Homo sapiens: one gene and its partners. The protein of the gene in region 1 purifies or fractionates together with the protein of each later gene. This does not show direct contact. Each region holds a gene or a part of one and is shown in the gene's direction. Other genes may lie near its edges.

Region 1 (3,659 bases):
ATGATGTTTGGAGCCTTTGGCAGGCCCCCATAGGTGAGTCACAGCAGAGGCCTCTAAGATTTTGGAGGAAGGGCCTGCCATCTTCTGCAGATAACTACTCTCCTTTTGAGAGACAGCTCTTGGCCTGTTACTGGACTTTGGTGGAAACTGAATGTTTGACTATGGGTCATCAAGTCACCATGCGACCAGAACTGCCTATCATGAACTGGGTGCTTTCTGACCCATCTAACTATAAAGTGGGTCTTGCACAGCAGCATTCCATCATCAAATGGAAGTGGTATATATGTGGTCCAGCTTGAGCAGGTCCTGAAGGCACAAGTAAGTTACATGAGAAAGTAGCTCAAATGCCCATGGTCTCCACTCCTGCCACCCTGCCTTCTCTCCCTCAGCCTTTATATATATATATGTAAGGGGGAGTTTATTAAGTGTTAACTCACATGATCACAAGGTCCCACAATAGGTCTTCTGCAGGCTGAGGAGCAAGGAGAGCCAGTCCGAGTTCCCAAACTGAAGTATTTGGAGTCCAATGTTCAAGGGCAGGAAGCATCCACCACGGGAGAAAGATGTAGGCTTGGAGGTTAGATCAGTCTCTCTATTCACATTTTTTTGCCTGCTTATATTCTAGCCACGCCTGGCAGCTGATTAGATGGTGCCCACCCAGATTAAGGGTGGGTCTAGCCCTTTCCTAGCCCACTGATTCAAATGTTAATCTCCTTTGACAACACCCTCACAGACACACTCAGGGTCAATACTTTGTATCCTTCAACCAAGTTGACATGGAGTATTAACCATAACACATATAGTCCAATTAATTATGATAGAAATAAAAATAAAATATAATTAATCTTTCAGACTTTTAAAAGTGTCAGTTCAGAACTAAAACTGATTATGCCTCTGGAACTATGAAGATTACTTTCAAAGATCTTATTGTACTCTTTATTGAGATTTGACTAATATTTTGTGGGAAAGATAGCCCACATGGGATTGGTGAAAAGTGTTTTGAAAAAGAAATCAAATAGCAATATAAACTCAATTCATAAGTAAGGTTATTTTCGTTTATTTTTGTTGTCTTTTTTTAACTCTCTACTAATATGTTACTTAGTCACAGAATATTAGACTTAGACAGGAAAATAGTTTGCAGGAGATAAATTACACTGACATTTTCCATAGAATGATAATACAAAAAAATTTGACTAGAAAGTACATTGTAATAATTTTATATGAAAAGCCTTCTCTACTACATATGTATTGATCATCTACCAGATGCTAGGCTCTGAGTTGAGTAGGATACAATTTTGTCCTCGAGGTTACAATCTCCTAACAAAGAGAGATTTACTTACTTGTAATTACATCGTATGAAATTTACTATGTAAATTATTACTATTTCGTACATAGTATGAAAATTACTATAACTAAATTACTATAACTTTATACTATACTATAACTATAGTATAAAATTACTATAACTAAAATATGGACAAAGAGGGCACCTCACTTGTTACAAGAAACCCAGAAACTTATATTTGTTGATCCTTAAAACTTATGTTTGTTTCAGAAGCACAGTGCCATTCACTTTCTAGTAAAATCACTCTCTGAAGTGGATGGAGGAGAGCTGCAACTAGATTCAAGCAGTACGGTGAAGAAAAACAATGAGAAACAACGAAGACCTTAACTAGGGCAATGTCAGGGTCTCAAGAGAAACCAAATCTCAGCTAGGATTTTGAAGAAAATTTAATGGAGGGACTACTTACAGATATGTAGGCAGGATTGCTAGAACCACTAAGGAATAATGAGGCCTCCAGGAATTAAATTTTTAAGAATTTCAAAAGCCAGTTGTTTTTCATGGTGTGAAATGGTGTCTCATTTGTTTAAGTTCCTTGTAGATTCTAGAGAGTAGACCTTTTACTATTGCCTAAAACCAAAAGTGATAAGTACTAAAAACTTATCACTCCCTATATTTATATATTTTATTATCTGCTTTTTAGGTTATTTCCATCTATTTTTTCTATATGGTAGTGATACTGTATAATTGTGTGGCTATTGTGTGTCTTTTTTTCTGCTTTGCATTTAGTAATGTCATGTTAATAGGGTGAAATTGGCTATGGTTGGAATATTCACAACATAAAAATCAGCAAACACTAAAAATTAGGGATTGAGTTATTGTTTTCAGAAAATTTGATGAAAAATGTAAATAATCAGAACAAAGTTCTCTGAGGGAAATAATGTAACGATGAATATTAAATTTAAAAGTTTCTGATATCTGTAGGCATTACATTAGGAAGACCCCCCAACATTTGAGGAAACATTCTTTTAGTATTCAAAAAAATATTATTTTTTGTTTGTTTTTTTAACTTTTATTTTAAGTTCAGGGGTACATGTGTAGATTTGTTATATAGGTAAACTTGTGTTGTTAAGCCTAGTACCCATTAGTTGTTTTTCTGACCTCCCTCCTCCTGCTCCTCTACCCTCTGATAGGCCCCAGTGTGTGTTGTTTCCCTCTTTGCCTTGTTTGTGTCCATGTGTTCTCATAATTTAGCTCCCAATTATAAGAAAGAACATGTGGTATTTGGTTTTCTGTTCCTGTATTAGTTTGCTAAGGGTAATGGCTTCCAGCTTCATCCATGTTCCTGCAAAGGACACGATCTCATTCTTTTTTTCTGGCTGCATAGTATTCTTTAGTGTGTGTGTATCACATTTTCTTTATCCAGTCTATCACTGATGGGCATTTAGGTTGATTCCATGTCTTTGCTGTGGTGAATAGTGCTACAATGAACATACATGTGAATGTGTATTTTTTTTTTTTTTTTTGAAACAGAGTCTCGCTCTTTCATCCATGCTGGAGTGCAGTGGTATGATCTTGGCTCACTACAACCTCCACCTCCTGGGTTCAAGTGAGTCTTCTGCCTCAGCCATATGAGTATCTGGTACTACAGGCACGTGCCACCATACCTGGCCAATTTTTGTATTTTTAGTAGAGATGGGTTTCACCATGTTGGCCAGGCTGGTCTCGAACTCATGACCTCAAGTGATCCACCCGCCTCTGCCTCCCAAAGTGCTAGAATTACAGGCATGAACCACCACGCCCAGCTGCAAGCATGTTTTTATAATAGAAAGATTTCTGTTCATTTGGGTATATGTACGGTAATGGGATTGCTGGGTTGGGAGGTATTTCTGTTTTGAGGTCTGTGCGGAATCACCACACTGTCGTCTACAATGGTTGAACTAATTTACACTCTCACCAACACTGTATAAACGTTCCATTTTCTCCACAACCTTGCTAGCATCTGTTATTTTTTGACTTTTTAATAATAGCCATTCTGACTGGTGTGAAATGGTGTCTCATTGGGGTTTTTATTTGCATTTCTCTAACAATCAGTGATTTGGAGCTTTTTAAAAATACGATTGTTGGCCACATGTATGTCTTTTTTGGAAAGTGTCTGTTCATGTCTTTTGCCTGCTTTTTAATGTTTTTTTGTAAATTTGTTTAAGTTTTTTATAGATGCAGGTATTAGACCTTTGTCAGATTCACAGTTTGCAAAAGTTTTCTCCCATTCTGTAGGTTATCTGTTTACTGTGTTGATAGTATCCTTTTCAGTGCAGATGCTTTTTAGTTTAATTATATCTCATTTGTCAATTTTTGCTTTTGTTGTAATTGCTTT
Region 2 (2,927 bases), on another chromosome or scaffold:
GGTGGGCCGGCCCCCTTTGCCAGTACCCGCTGTAGGAATTGGCACAGTTCACTTGCACCAGCATGAAGATATCCTCGCCAAGACCTTCGCTTGATGATGACTTTTGAAGAAACACTATTTCTCTTTAAGAAAATGGCCATTAAGGCCGGGTGGGGTGGCACATGCCTGTAATCCCAGCACTTTGGGAGGCCAAGGCTGGTGGATCACCTGAGGTCAGGAGTTCGAGACCAGCCTGGCCAACACGGTGAAACCCCGCCTCTACTAAAAATACAAAAAATAGCCGGGTGTGGTGGTGGGCACCTGTGATCCCAGCTTCCTGGGAGGCTGAGGCAAGAGAATCGCTTGAATCTGGGAGGCGGAGGTTGCAGTGAGCCAGGATCACACCATTGCTGTCCAGCCTGGGTGACAGAGCAAGACTGCGTTTCAAAAAAAAAAAAAAAAAAACCCATTAAAAGAGGCCTCCTTCCTCCACTCTCTCAACCCCTCTGTTGGGTAACATGAAAAGACTGTATTCCTCTAAGATGTTGGGATTGATATACGTGATTTAATCTGCAATAGGTGGAATAACCAGGGGAACTGGTTATGAATATGTGAATGCAACCAGCAAATTTATCCTTGAAGGTGTGATGGTAGAAATAGGAAAACAACAAAAGAAAAACAATAACAAAAAAAGAAAGTGTGATGGCTGGGTGCAGTGGCTCACGCCTGTAATCCCAGCACTTTGGGAGGCTTAGGCGGCTGGATCACCTGAGGTCAGGAGTTCAAGACCAGCCTGGTCAACGTGGTGAAACGCCGTTTCTACTAAAAATATGAAAATTAGTTGGGTGTGGTGGCATGCGCTTGTAGTCTCAGCTACTCCGGAGGCTGAGGCAGGAGAATTGCTTGAACCTGGAAGGCAGAGGTTGCAGTGAGCCGAAATGGCGCCACTGTACTCCAACCTGGGCGACAGAGCAAGACTCCATCTCATAAATTAAAAGGAAAGTATGATAGTGTTATGGATTTTAGCTCTGAGTGAGCTGGAAAACTAGGTCATTATCTAGATGATTTCAGACTTGACCCTAATTGACCATATATGACCAGGAAACACTTCTGAGTTTACAGCTCCGTGGAGATGACCTCAACACTGCCTCTTGATTTGTTTGATGCATGTCACTTTCATTAATTTTCCCCCTCCTTTTTGAAAGTCCTGTGGCAGTACTAATATTTTCATTTTATGTAATCTCTGGTGCTGCTTTCCAGTCACTGTATGAAGTGTCTCCCCAACACTAGCAAATCTAGGTCCTACTAAATACAAATCTCTGGGTGGATGATCTTCTAGTACTGTATTTTTAAATTAAGGAGTTTTAGTTATAATGAAATTGATTTGTAGTCTGTTTTGCCGTAAACTTGTTTTTCTTTAAATTGTTCTTACAGTGATATCTTACTATTTTTAACTGTCTGGGGTTTCTGATATGGGGATTTCAGCCCCTGGTTAATCAGTCTTGTCCCTACAAGTCCCTGATGCAGTATGTTTATTTGTGATGTTTAAAGAACATTTCTTGGCTGGGCGCTGCGGCTTGCGCCTGTAATCTCAGCACTTTGGGAGGCTGAGATGGGTGGATCACCTGAGGTTGGGAGTTCGAGACCAGCCTGACAAAACATAGTGAAACCCCGTCTCTACTAAAAATACAAAAATTAGCTGGGCGTGGTGGTGGGTGTCTGTAATCCCAGCTATTCGGGAGGCTGAGGCAGGAGAATCGCTTGAACCCAGGAGGTGGAGGTTGCAGTGAGCTGAGATCCTGCCACTGCACTCCAGTCTGGGTGACAGAGCAAGACTCCATCTCAAAAAATAAATAAATAGAAAGAGAGAGAGAGGAAAAAAAAAGAAAAGAACACTTCTTTATTTGAGGGACTTTCCCAACACCAGGTGCTTGGGGATTTCTTAGAGATCACCAACCGACTCCCTCACTGTGAAATTAAACCAAGTACTGGAAACGTAACTAAACAGCGAACCATGTAGCTTCACCTGACTCAGTGCTGGGGGCCTCTACCATCTACTGTGCTTGTGTCATGATGCTTTTTCTCTGAAGTGGTGTGGGAAGTACCAGGGGACTGGCAGAAGCCCAGGCCCTCTCTACTTTTACCAGCAACTGATCATGTCTTTCAGAATCCATGTACATATAGGCTGTTCTAGCCACAGTGGTAGATTTATGATTCACATCCGAAAGTGTGCCTTAGTTATCAATTTAACATTTCTCTAGTATTCATATCCCTTTTCTTACCATATACCTCAGTGTATCCTTCCTGTGTCAAGCCTTATAAATCATGTAATTTAGTGCCACTCATGTAAATCAGTAAAATCACAAAGGTCTATTTAATGAAAACGATTTACCAATGTTGTTTTTTTTTAACAAGAAAAAAAATAAAAGCACATTGTCATTTTTTTTCCTCAGGACTCCTGGACTTCTTGAATTAAAAGATTTCAAAAGTCTAAGCACAAAAATGAGATGGAAGATTAGATCTTTGTAAAAGGTTAGTTTAGGCTGGGCGTGGTAGCTCACGCCTGTAATCACAGCACTGTGGGAGGTCAAGATGGGTGCATCACCTGAGGTCAGGCATTCGAGACTAGCCTGGCCAACATGGCTAAACCCCGTCTCTTACTAAAAATATAAAAATTAGCAGGGCATGGTGGTGCATGCCTGTAATCCCAGCTACTTGGGAGGCTGAGGCAGGAGAATCACTTGATCTCGGGAGGCGGAGGTTGCAGTGAGCCGAGATTGCACCACTGTACTCCAGCCTGGGTGACAGAGCGGGACTCTGTCTCAAAAAATAAAAGGTTACTTTAAATCTCTCCGAATTTCTTTTGAGACAGAGTCTCACTTTGTCGCCCAGGCTGGAGTGGTGCGATCTCAGCTCACTGCAACCTCCACCTCCTGGGTTCAAAAGAT
Region 3 (3,659 bases), on another chromosome or scaffold:
ATAGCCAGATTGTGAACCTAAGAGGTCTGACTCCAGAGCCTTGATTGAACTGCTTCAAAGTACAAAGAGCTGTGTTTAAGTGTGTGCTAAAATTTATGAACTCTAAAGATCAAGATAAAAAAGTCCAGAAGAGAACAAGTTATCAGCAAAAGCAAAAAAGACTGTCATCAGCATTCTCACCTGCAGTAGTTTAAGCCATAAAACTGGGAATACTACTCTATTACTGTACTACTTGAGATAAAAGGACCAAAACTTCTCTAATCAGCCAAAATATTTATTTACCTATCTGGGTGAAACAGATTTGCTGATTAACACAGTTGAGCACCTAACCCCACCCACTCTGTGATGAAAATACTCAAAGAAAAGAGAAATCTAATAGTATTTAATCTTGGTCTTTGCACATGCTATTTCTCCTGCCTGGAATAACTCTTCCCTTTCTTCAGCAAATAGCTCAGATTCTCCTAGAAAAAGTTATCTTTTTCCCGGAAATCTTTTGCAATTCCCCAAGTCTAAGTCTTTTGCTCTTCCAAAATGCTGTAGCACCCAGTACTTTCTTCATTTTAGCACTTAACCATAATATCTTACAATGACCTTCCACTTCGTTGTCTTATTTTCCCCATAAGATTGTAAGCTCTATGAGGGCAGGGGCAGACCTGTCTTGTCACAGTGGTAGCCCCCACGCCTAGCACAATATCTGCAATATATTAGGTTGATGGTGTGACTGAATGTTTATATGTAGTCCAAATTTGCATATCTTTTTTGCCGCTCAGATTGTTCTGGTAGCTATACAGGGAAAGGAAAGCCTTAAGTTTTTCTTCAGTGGATACATCCTATTCAGGTAGACCTATCGGGTATGTGTATATTTCTGTATTCATCTCATGACTTTTACAGAATTTTATTAAATTCACAAAATTTATATGTAAATGTATGAAAATCCATATAGATTCAATTTACACAGGTATATTTACAATGCATTTTATCCATGTTTGCTTCACACTTCTGTTATTTTTGAAAGTAACAGAAAAATTAATAAGAAACTATAGGGATGAATTTGCAAAGTTGGTTAAAAATTGGTCAAAAATTCAGACTGATGCTCTAAAAAAATAGTATTAATTCTATATTTTTCTGTTTCTCTTCAGATTAAAGCTAAAAATTATGACAAGGTTGAAAAGGTGAGTCCTCAAATACTTTGAATTTTATATTGAAGTTTAACTTAAAACCTAGTATGTATAAGACAGATGTAGTAAAATGTTAATAATAATTGAATCTAGATAGTGATTTTTTACAAGTTAATTGTACTTATTCAGCTTTTTTATATGCTTGAAAATGTTCATCATAAAAGTTTTGGAAAAGGAAAAGAAAATAATTATACTCCCCTGACAAATCATGAGAAGCATTTTAATTATCTAAACTGAAAATGGGGAAATTATTTGCTTTTTATTTATAAGAGATAAATTCATAAAGGGAGCTGAATTTGTGTTTTTAATGTTCCATTTCATCTATGTCCATGTGAAATTTATTTAACTGGATTCTGATAATATATTCTTGTATTTAAAGCTATTTCAGAGATGCCTTATGAAGGTTTTGCACATTGATTTATGGAAGTGTTATCTTTCATATGTCCGAGAAACCAAGGGTAAACTACCAAGTTACAAGTAAGTGAAACCAGGATCTTAAGAATGCAAGTCATCTCCAGGCACACAGTTAATCCCACATAAACTCACACCTTCTGTTAGCCCCAAGTGGGAAGAATTATCAGGATTTGAAAAGTCAGGATTTCCTAAGAATTAGTAACCTTGAAAAAAGTGCTTCAGAGAAAGTCACTGGCATGAGTCTTACTCTGGAGAATTGAATCGCCCAAGCCCTTTCTATACTGAAACACTGTATAATTGCAACACCAAACCACTTTGTTGACAGACTTGTCAAATTTTTTCAAAAACCATCTTCATACTTGTGCTAGTACCACTTTTGTGAGGTCACAATGCAATGTGCTACTTAAGTGATCTAAGGGGTCTCTGACATTTGTAGTGATATAAGGGATCTCTGACAATTGTATTGTGAAGTTGCCATCCCCACTCCGAATTATACCCACCTCCCCATCTTTGCCAAATCTAAATAATGGACCTTCTTCTGAGGTGCCATTTTTCTATGTAACTAACAGGCAAGTTATGTCTGTTACTAAAATTCTGTCTTTATTGTCTTTTCCTGATTATACTTTTTGTTATGATTTTTGTGTTTTGAGACAGAGTTTCAGCTCTGTCGTACAGGCTGGAGTGCAGTGGCACAATCACGGGTTCACTGTAGCCTCAACCTCTTGGGCTCAAGTGATCCTCCCACCTCAGCCTTCCAAGTAGATGGGACTACAGGCAAGAGCCACCACACCTGGCTGATTTTTTTTCTATTTTTTTGTAGAGATGGGGTCTCCTTATGTTTGAGACTCCAAACGTAGCAGGGTCTCAAGCATAAGTTAATGTCCCTAGGCTGGTCTCAAACTACTGAGCTCAAGCAATTCTCCTGCCTCAGCCTCCCAAAATGCTGGAATTACAGGCATAAACCACCACACCTGGTCTGTTTATTGTCTTATATTGAAGTGGAAGTTCTTTTTCCCTAATGTACCCTTTACATTTTAACATAAGTTGCATTTTAATAAAACTATACTTTCCAGATTTCTACATTTTACTTTAGAGCTAAAGATCTTAATGTCTCATTAATGAGAGAACCACAAATTTCCACATTTGAATCTGCTATGTATAGAATTATGCAACTTAAATGATATAAAGATAAGTAAGACATGAGCCTTATTTTTGATAAGCTCACAAGCAGTAGATAAAGGAAACAATTTATGATCTTGACAAGCTTAACATCAAAGAACGACTTTATATACTTAAAAGATGTCTTTAATTTATGTTTATAGAGAATGTTCAAGTGTTGTTCTGATCCTGTGATCAGAAGCTACATTTTAGTTATATATACATTTATTATTTATTTATTTATAGAGACGAGGTCTCACTGTGCTGCCCAGGCTTGTCTCCGACTCCTGGCCTCAGATGATCCTCCTGCCTCAGCCTCCCAAAGCATTGGGATTCCAGGAATGAACCACCACGTCTATCTTCAAATAATAATTTATTTTTAATTTTTTTTAGAGACAGGGTCTTGCTCTGTCACCCAGGCTGAAGTGTAATGGTGCATTCATAACTCACTGTAACCTTGAAATCCTGGGCTTAAGCACTCCTCCCACCTCAGCCTTCCGAGTAGCTAGGATTACAGGTGCACGCCACCATGCCCAGCTAATTTTTTTAATTTTTATTTTTTTAGAGACTGGGTTTTGCTATGTTGCACAGGCAGGTCTTGAATTCCTGGTCTCAAGTGATCCTTCTGCCTCGGCCTCCCAAAGCAGTGGGATTACAGGCATGAGCCACCATGTCTGGCCTAATTGTAGATAAATTTTAATAACAAAAAAATTTAAAAACCACGTCTTTCATGTTCATTTCAGAGAAAAAATGGCTCAAGCATATGACTTTGCACTGGATAAAATTGGAATGGAAATTATGTCCTATCAGGTAGAGTTAAAACTTTTTAATGTATGCACTTAAATGTAAGAATACCAAGAAAGATATTAACATTTCATTTTATTTCTTAGATTTGGGTGGATTACATCA

Evidence for each region.
Region 2: the proteins of MMUT (region 1) and DHTKD1 fractionate together in Homo sapiens (co-fractionation; one large-scale study listed by BioGRID). This does not show direct contact.
Region 3: the proteins of MMUT (region 1) and CSTF3 fractionate together in Homo sapiens (co-fractionation; one large-scale study listed by BioGRID). This does not show direct contact.

The regions. Positions count from the first base shown.
Region 1 is NC_000006.12:49,435,754-49,439,412, reverse strand, and holds part of MMUT (methylmalonyl-CoA mutase, mitochondrial precursor), read left to right. Parts: intron 1-3,659. UniProt on the Homo sapiens protein: Catalyzes the reversible isomerization of methylmalonyl-CoA (MMCoA) (generated from branched-chain amino acid metabolism and degradation of dietary odd chain fatty acids and cholesterol) to succinyl-CoA (3-carboxypropionyl-CoA), a key intermediate of the tricarboxylic acid cycle.
Region 2 is NC_000010.11:12,120,795-12,123,721, forward strand, and holds the end of DHTKD1 (2-oxoadipate dehydrogenase complex component E1), read left to right. Parts: coding exon 1-94; 3' UTR 95-2,427; downstream 2,428-2,927. UniProt on the Homo sapiens protein: 2-oxoadipate dehydrogenase (E1a) component of the 2-oxoadipate dehydrogenase complex (OADHC). Participates in the first step, rate limiting for the overall conversion of 2-oxoadipate (alpha-ketoadipate) to glutaryl-CoA and CO(2) catalyzed by the whole OADHC.
Region 3 is NC_000011.10:33,105,899-33,109,557, reverse strand, and holds part of CSTF3 (cleavage stimulation factor subunit 3), read left to right. Parts: intron 1-1,139; coding exon 1,140-1,172; intron 1,173-1,557; coding exon 1,558-1,655; intron 1,656-3,493; coding exon 3,494-3,560; intron 3,561-3,640; coding exon 3,641-3,659. UniProt on the Homo sapiens protein: One of the multiple factors required for polyadenylation and 3'-end cleavage of mammalian pre-mRNAs.